Linked DNA regions of Homo sapiens. The protein of the gene in region 2 interacts with the protein of the main gene of each other region in a pairwise test. Each region holds a gene or a part of one and is shown on either strand. Other genes may lie near its edges. The genes, in order: PLCD4 and IPO11.

Region 1 (3,822 bases), on a different chromosome or scaffold from region 2:
GATGGGGTTTCACTGTGTTAGCCAGATGGTCTCAATCTCCTGACCTCGTGATCCACCCGCCTAGGCCTCCCAAAGTGCTGGGATTACAGGCGTGAGCCACCACGCCTGGCCCCCATTCCAGGTTTGAGGGCTTCCTCTTTCCAGATGTCTACGAGGGAACCAGAGAAATTCTTTCACCCTCTTACCTCAGCTGGGGGCGGTATGGATTGTGAGCAATTTGTCTGTAAAACAGACTCTCTTAGATGTGTCCTGTGATCAAATTATGTCTTGTTATCATAAAGAGTTTGGCCAATAAGTGCACACTGTTATGATTTTTTTTTTGTTTTATTTTGTTTTTTGAGACCAAGTTTTGCTCTTGTCACCCAGGCTGGAGTGCAATGGCACAATCTCAGCTCACTGTAACCTCTGCCTTCCAGGTTCAAGCGATTCTCCTGCCTCAGCCTTCCGAGTAGCTGGGACTACAGGTGCGCGCCACCAAGCCCGGCTAATTTTTGTATTTCTAGTAGAGATGGGGTTTCACCATGTTGGCCAGGCTGGTCTCAAACTCCTGATCTCAAGTGATCTGCCTGCCTCGGCCTCCCAAAGTGCTGGGATTACAGGCATGATCCACCACACCCAGCCGCATTTTTTGTATTTAAAAATATTTATTATAGGCCGGGTGCAGTGGCTCACGCCTGTAATCCCAGCACTTTGGGAGGCCGAGGCAGGCGGATCACGGGGTCAGGAGATGGAGACCATCCTGGCCAACACAGTGAAACCCCGCCTCTACTAAAAATGCGAAAAATTAGCCGGGCGTGGTGGCGGGTGCCTGTAGTCCCAGCCACTCAGAAGGCTGAGGCAAGAGAATGGCGTGAACCCGGAAGGCGGAGCTTGCAGTGAGCTGAGATCACGCCACTGCACTCCAGCCTGGGCAACAGAGCGAGACTCCATCTCTCTCTCTCTCTCTCTCTCTCTCTCTCTCTCTCTCTCTCTCTCTCTCTCTCTCTCTATATATATATATATATATATATATATATAAAATAATGGCTAACATTCATTAAATGCATTCTGGTTTTACATCCCATGCTAAGTGTTTTACATGTTAACTCATTGAGTCCTTGTAGCCTACTAAGCAGGTACTGTTTAATCCCTGTTTTACAGATGAGGAAACTGAAGCTTGATGTATGTATGTATGTATGTATGTATGTATATATGTATTTTTGTAGAGACAGGGTCTCACTCACCCAGGCGGAGTGCAGTGGTGTGATCACAGCTCACTGCAGTCTCAACTTCCTGGACTCAAGTGATCCTCCCATCTTAGCCTCCCAAATAGCTGAGACCACAGGCGTACAGCACCACACCCAGCTAATTTTTTATTTTTATTTTTTATAGAGACAGGATCTCCCTATGTTGTCCAGGCTGGTCTTGAACTTCTGGTCTCAAGAAATTCTCCTGCCTCAACCTCCCAAATTGCTGGGATTACAGGCATTGAGCCACCATGCCCAGCCATAGCTTAACTACTTGATTTTCCACAGCTACTCAGTTAGAAAGTGGCAGAGCCAGGGCTTTAATTCAGGCAGGCTGATGCCCAAGATCATGGTCTTATTATAATAACAACAAGATGTAACCAATGATTTATTACATCTTACTATGTTCCAGGACTCTTCTAAGCCTTTTATATACAATAACTAATTTAATCCTCATAACAGCCTTATGAGGCAAGTACTGTTATGATCTCCTTTTACAGGCTCAGATATAGCCACAATTAGGACAGCACAAACACACACTATCGTAGGACTTTGGTCCCTCCCCTGCCGGGCTCCTCAGGCCTCTATCCACCCATGTATCCACCCCCCACTATCCAGGTCACTCACAGCTGGGCTTGGCACTGCCCCTGGCCTGCCGTGCATGCCAGACTGTCATGCCGTCATTCTGAAGTCTGAAGTATCTTAGCTTCTTCCAGCTTTTGGACCTCACCTTGCGCATCGGCATGCCTTCCTGCATCAGCAGCAAGTCCTGATCAGTGGTCAGCTCTAGGTCAGGAAAAGCAGGGGTTAGGTAGCCAGCAGAGAGGGTAGCAGGCCCAGGGAGAGCTCTGGAACAGGGGTCCAACCTCCTTCCCTTCCCTGAGCTGTACACTAAGGCCTCTTCCCCTGCAGGGGCCCCGGCACTCACGGTCTTGCAGCAGGGACGCCATCACCCACTGTTCCACCAGCTGGCACCAGATCACCTAAAGGAGCAAGGAAGAGCAAAGGGCTCTGGGTGAATCTTGAAGATAGTCTGTAGCTGATTTTTGCTTCTAATTTTGAGTTTAGTGACTCTGACACTTTAGATAGGTTTAGAAACCTGCCTCAAATCACATAAGGATCAGAATTTAAACCAAGATATGTCTGATCCCAGAGCCTCTGCTATTTCCCATGGCTATCTTCAGAGAAGGGTAAACCAAAGATTCCGCCCAGCACCCCCTTCCTACCCAATAACCCACAGTCTACTAGTGCCACATTTTGCTCACTCCCCACCCTCTCATTATTAGGAACTAACATCTTGCTGGATGTCCCTTTCAGAAACTAGAATCTCTTCACACCCTAGCCTTCTCATTTCCAGGTGGAATCCTTTCAGCTTCCCTATTCTGGGAGTCCTCTCTATCTATGCTCCCACATAGACTGTCCAGCTCCTGAGGGGCTAGTGCAGACTTTCTTTTTCTTTTTCTTTTTTTTGATACGGAGTGTCGCTCTGTCACCCAGGCTGGAGTGCAGTGGTGCAATCTCAGCTCACTGCAACTCCCAGTTCAAGCGATTCTCCTGCCTCGGCCTCCCGAGTAGCTGGGACTACAGGCATGTGCCACCACACCCGGCTAATTTTTTGTATTTTTAGTACAGACAGGTTTTCACTGTGTTAGCCAGGATGGTCTCAATCTCCTGACCTCGTGATCCGCCCACCTCGGCCTCCCAAAGTGCTGGGATTACAGGCGTGAGCCACTGCACCCGGCCAGACTTTCTTTTTTCTCTTTAACAATACTTAGTTGTCTTCTTCTACCTTCACATGGTAAAGCATATTTTATACCTTTCCTTTATAGTTATTCTCACAGTTTTAATGGACCAAATAAGTTACACAAGTCTCAGAACTACATTTTCAAATTTTCTCTACCTACCAAAAAAGGGTACCTCTTTTAAGATATAGGCTGTTGGCTGGGTGCGGTGGCTCACGCCTGTAATCCCAGCAATTTGGGAGGCCGAGGCTGGCGGATCACCAGAGGTCAGGAGTTTGAGACCTGCCTGGCCAACATGGCAAAACCCCGTCTCACTAGTAATACAAAAAAATTAGCTGGGCATGGTGGCAAGCACCTGTAATCCCAGCTACTTGGGAGGCTGAGGCAGGAGAATCGCTTGAACCTGGGTGGCAGAGGTTGGCAGTGAGCCAAGATTGTGCCATGCACTCCAGCCTGGGCGACACAGCGAGACTCTGTCTCAATAAAAAGAGGAAAAAGGCTGGGCACGGTGGCTCACACCTGTAATCCCAGCACTTTGGGAGGCCGAGGTGGGTGGATCACGAGGTCAGGAGATTGAGACCATCCTGGCTAACACAGTGAAACCCTGTCTCTACTAAAAAAATACAAAAGGCTGGGCGCGGTGGCTCAAGCCTGTAATCCCAGCACTTTGGGAGGCCAAGGCGGGCGGACCATGAAGTCAGAAGTTCAAGACCAGCCTGGCCAACATAGTGAAACCCCGTCTCTACTAAAAATACAAAAAATTAGCCGGGTGTGGTTGTGTGCACCTGTAATCCCAGCTACTCAGGAGGCTGAGGCAGGAGAGTCGTGTGAACCTGGGAGGCAGAGGTTGCAGT
Region 2 (3,822 bases):
TTTTTTTTTTTTTTTTTTTAAGAGACGGGTTTTGCTTTGTAATCCAGGCTAGAACGCAGTGGCATCATCATGGCACACGGCAGCCTCAACCTCCTGGGCTCAAACAATCCTCCTGCCTCAGATTCCTGAAGAGTTGGGACTACAGGTATGCGCCACCACTCTGGTCTAATTTTTTTTTCCTTTTTTTACTTTTTGCAGAGACAGGGTCTCACTATGTTTACCAGGCCGGTCTTGAATTTCTGGCCTCAAGCGATCCTCCCACCTTGGCTTCCCAAAGTGCTAGGATTAAAGTGTGAGCCACCATGCCCAGCAAATGTCTGGAATCTTTAATAGAGTGTCATTCTCTACTAAGAGCTTTAGAAAGATTAAGCTTTCCCCTATCAATTTTTCTTGCAATTAATACTTACCCTCAAACTATATTTCCAAGAATCTCCTCCTGTTTCTTCCACTGCTGCAATTAAAAATATGTAATAATGACATTTTCAACATCTTGGTTTAGAAAACAAAGATTTTAATAACATCAGTATAATATTTTTGTGAACTCTTTTAAACATAACATTAAGAGCAAAGCCTTGGGAACACAGGCCTTACACAGATTTTGTTACTATATGCTACAGATCACAGTTGTGTATCTCACAGTCGTCTATTAAGTGCTTACTATATCCATAAGCATTCTCATTTTCGATAAAAATTCTTTATGGAAAAAAGCTCAAAGTAGTTGTCATTTCCAGGGTATCTGCTATCACCTGATCCAATATCACTAGAATTCTGAGAATCATTTCATTTCAATACAGTAATCATGTTTCACTAGGTACAATGATTACTCACACTCTCCATAAATTTCTTGAATTTAAAGAAAAATACTTCAGGGCTCTTAAAAATTTAGGGACTCAACACTTTATGTTACAATGTTGTATGTACTATATAAAGAAAGCAAATTGAAAAAAGATGTTTCAAAAAAAGCAAAAAAAAAAACAAGAAAAGACATGTTGTACAGTACAATCCTGTATTAAAACTAAAATTACTTTTAAAAACCAAAAGCATGGCGAAGATAAGTATTACAAAAACTTTTGGGCACTCTTAAAATATTAGGAAACGTGTAACTACACAAGGGTACACAACCAAAGAGAAAAGGGAGGCTAAAATCTAGCCTATGTCCCACCATAGCTTAAGTAATTCACATACAAGTAAGTACTTTATTAGACACATGATTCCTTGATTTTCTATAGCAAGGGTCCCAACAGACTTATTCTACTTATCTATCTAGTACTAAAATTCAAACAGATATAAAGATGTCCTGTCCAAAAAAAAAAAAAAAACTATTCATCAAAAACCTCCAAATTTCTTTGCAAGAATTTCTACAAATAAAAAATAACATGGAATGAATCACAAAATAGAAACTGACAGGGTAAGAGAGAGTTAATTTTATATTTTTGTTTGAAACTACATGATATATTTGTAAAGGAATCCAAAAACTAAAAAGGTCTTTTCCTGGACAAAATTCTACAACATATTTGCATAAGTCATTCATTTTCTGCTTCTCAATTTGTTCTAATGGATAACAACGAAAGAGTAAGTTAATTTTAAAACACCAAGATTTCCAGATCAAAAGTGCTGTATGAAAATACAATATTATACCTATCACTCAAACAGATATTTATAGAAAGGGGAGAAAAGTCATTCTAACACTAAAAAATTAATTCTTACTAAAGCCTTCTGGGTCTTCTTCCCACATTGTCAGTTCTTCTTCAGTTAATAGGAAATAATGAGAGACTAATCTTCTACATATCTCTGTCAAAGTAGGATATGTGAAGAATGCCATCTTAATCTTATGGGCTTCAAGAGTTTCAGGGCTGCTATCTAGAAAAATGAAATTTCCAAGTTAATTGTATAGCCAAACATTGTAGCTACATTGGATTATGTAACTTAAATAAATAAAAAATACACTCTCAGGGAAGAAGATACACTTGTGTATAAATTTTCATTTTTATTATAAACAAATCTCAAAGATACTCTTTCCTTACAACACACTCACATCAATCTTGCCTCTGGCATTACAGCTTATATATTACCATGCAATACCATCACGGCATACTGAAATAACTTCCTCATAATGTAGAGGGTGTGGGGGGTGTGTGCATGTGTTTCTCTCTCCCCCACCACCAAGACTTCTTCATTCATCTTGGCACACACGCATATGAATGAATTCCAAATAATACAACAATTTAACCTGTCTAGAAACAATCACACTTTATATAAAGTCAGAGAAAGCTTTTATTTGTTCAAATGAATACACCCTACAATATGAGCTGCAGTGATGACTATAGTACCTAATTCTTAAAGTCCCTAAGCTTCAACCAATTTGTGCTACAAAAAATGGCTTATTAAATGCACTATGTTGTTTTTAAAAGCTAGTATAAACATACTAAAGCCTATAATCCTTATATCTTTTTCATGTCCCAGCAACAATTTATTTTTCAGACTAAAATGACATTTTTTAAAAAGTTTGTAATTATAGCAATTATATCACACTTAAGATTAAAATAATTCTTTTAAACTGCCAATAAAGGAATTACCTTCAAAATTTTTGGATGGCTTATAAGCATAATTTTTGACAATCATCTTAATAAGATTCATACATTGGACAATGAATCGTTCAAATGTAACGCCTTCACCAACTTCTGTAAAAACATAGCTTACAGAAAATTCCAGTGATCTCTGAATTAGAGGAGTAAATGAAAAAGGATGCTGATCCAAGAAGTCCAAAAGCTGTAGAAAAATAAATAAATAAAAATTAAAATGTATTTTCCCCAAATTCATATTGGAATATAATCACTCCAATTATAACTTTACTAATAATCATTTAGCAGTTTGAACCTTAGTGTGGAGTCTATGTTCACTCAGTTTTACATTATCATAACTCTTCTTGAGGCACATCATATAATGAGGATTATGTTAGATTATATCTGATAATAAGAACTTTCTATTATTTTCAATACAGAAACCAAAACAGACTCAATTCATACTTAATTTTATAACAATGGGTGAATATGATACAAAACGCTTAAATATACAATAGACCTTTAAAAGTAATAGACTAAGGTAAAGAATTTAAATATTATCTTCCCTTTCCCATATGAATTATATTTTAATGTTATCAAATAGCTAAGGAGGGAGATGTCTTCTTTATAGAAGAATTTCAGCTAATAAATGCAAAAGGAATAACAGAATTAGAATGCCATCATTGTGTAACTCCTGATCAAATAATGGATCTAGGCAAATGATGATCAACAGCTGTTAAAATAAGAGAAAAGCTGCTGAGGAAATTTGATAGATCACTCATCAATCTTAGCCACAGAAAAAGAAACCAATGAGAACAAAGACACAATGTACCAGAGTCTCTGGGACACATTTAAAGCAGTGTGTAGAGGGAAATTTATAGCACTAAATGTCCACAAGAGAAAGCAGGAAAGATCTAAAATCAACACCCTTACATTACAATTAAAAGAACTAGAGAAGGAAGAGCAAACACATTCCAAAGCTAGCAGAAGGCAAGAAGTAACTAAGATCAGAGCAGAACTGAAGGAGACAGAGACACAAAAAAACCCTTCAAAAAATCAATGAATCCAGGAGCTGGTTTTTTGAAAAGATCAACAAAAGTGACAGACCACTAGCAAGACTAATAAAGAAGAAAAGAGAAGAATCAAACAGACACAATAAAAAATGATAAGGAGTATCACCACCAATCCCACAGAAATACAAACCAACATCAGAGAACACTGTAAACACTTCTAAGCATATAAACTAGAAAATCTACAAGAA

The links.
Region 1: the proteins of IPO11 (region 2) and PLCD4 interact in a two-hybrid assay, tested with the Homo sapiens proteins (one large-scale study listed by BioGRID and IntAct).

Annotation. Positions count from the first base shown.
Region 1 is NC_000002.12:218,614,094-218,617,915, reverse strand, and holds part of PLCD4 (1-phosphatidylinositol 4,5-bisphosphate phosphodiesterase delta-4), read right to left. Parts: intron 2,210-3,822; 5' UTR 2,177-2,209; coding exon 2,155-2,176; intron 2,013-2,154; coding exon 1,854-2,012; intron 1-1,853. UniProt on the Homo sapiens protein: Hydrolyzes the phosphatidylinositol 4,5-bisphosphate (PIP2) to generate 2 second messenger molecules diacylglycerol (DAG) and inositol 1,4,5-trisphosphate (IP3).
Region 2 is NC_000005.10:62,482,048-62,485,869, reverse strand, and holds part of IPO11 (importin-11), read right to left. Parts: intron 2,770-3,822; coding exon 2,577-2,769; intron 1,861-2,576; coding exon 1,708-1,860; intron 452-1,707; coding exon 408-451; intron 1-407. UniProt on the Homo sapiens protein: Functions in nuclear protein import as nuclear transport receptor. Serves as receptor for nuclear localization signals (NLS) in cargo substrates.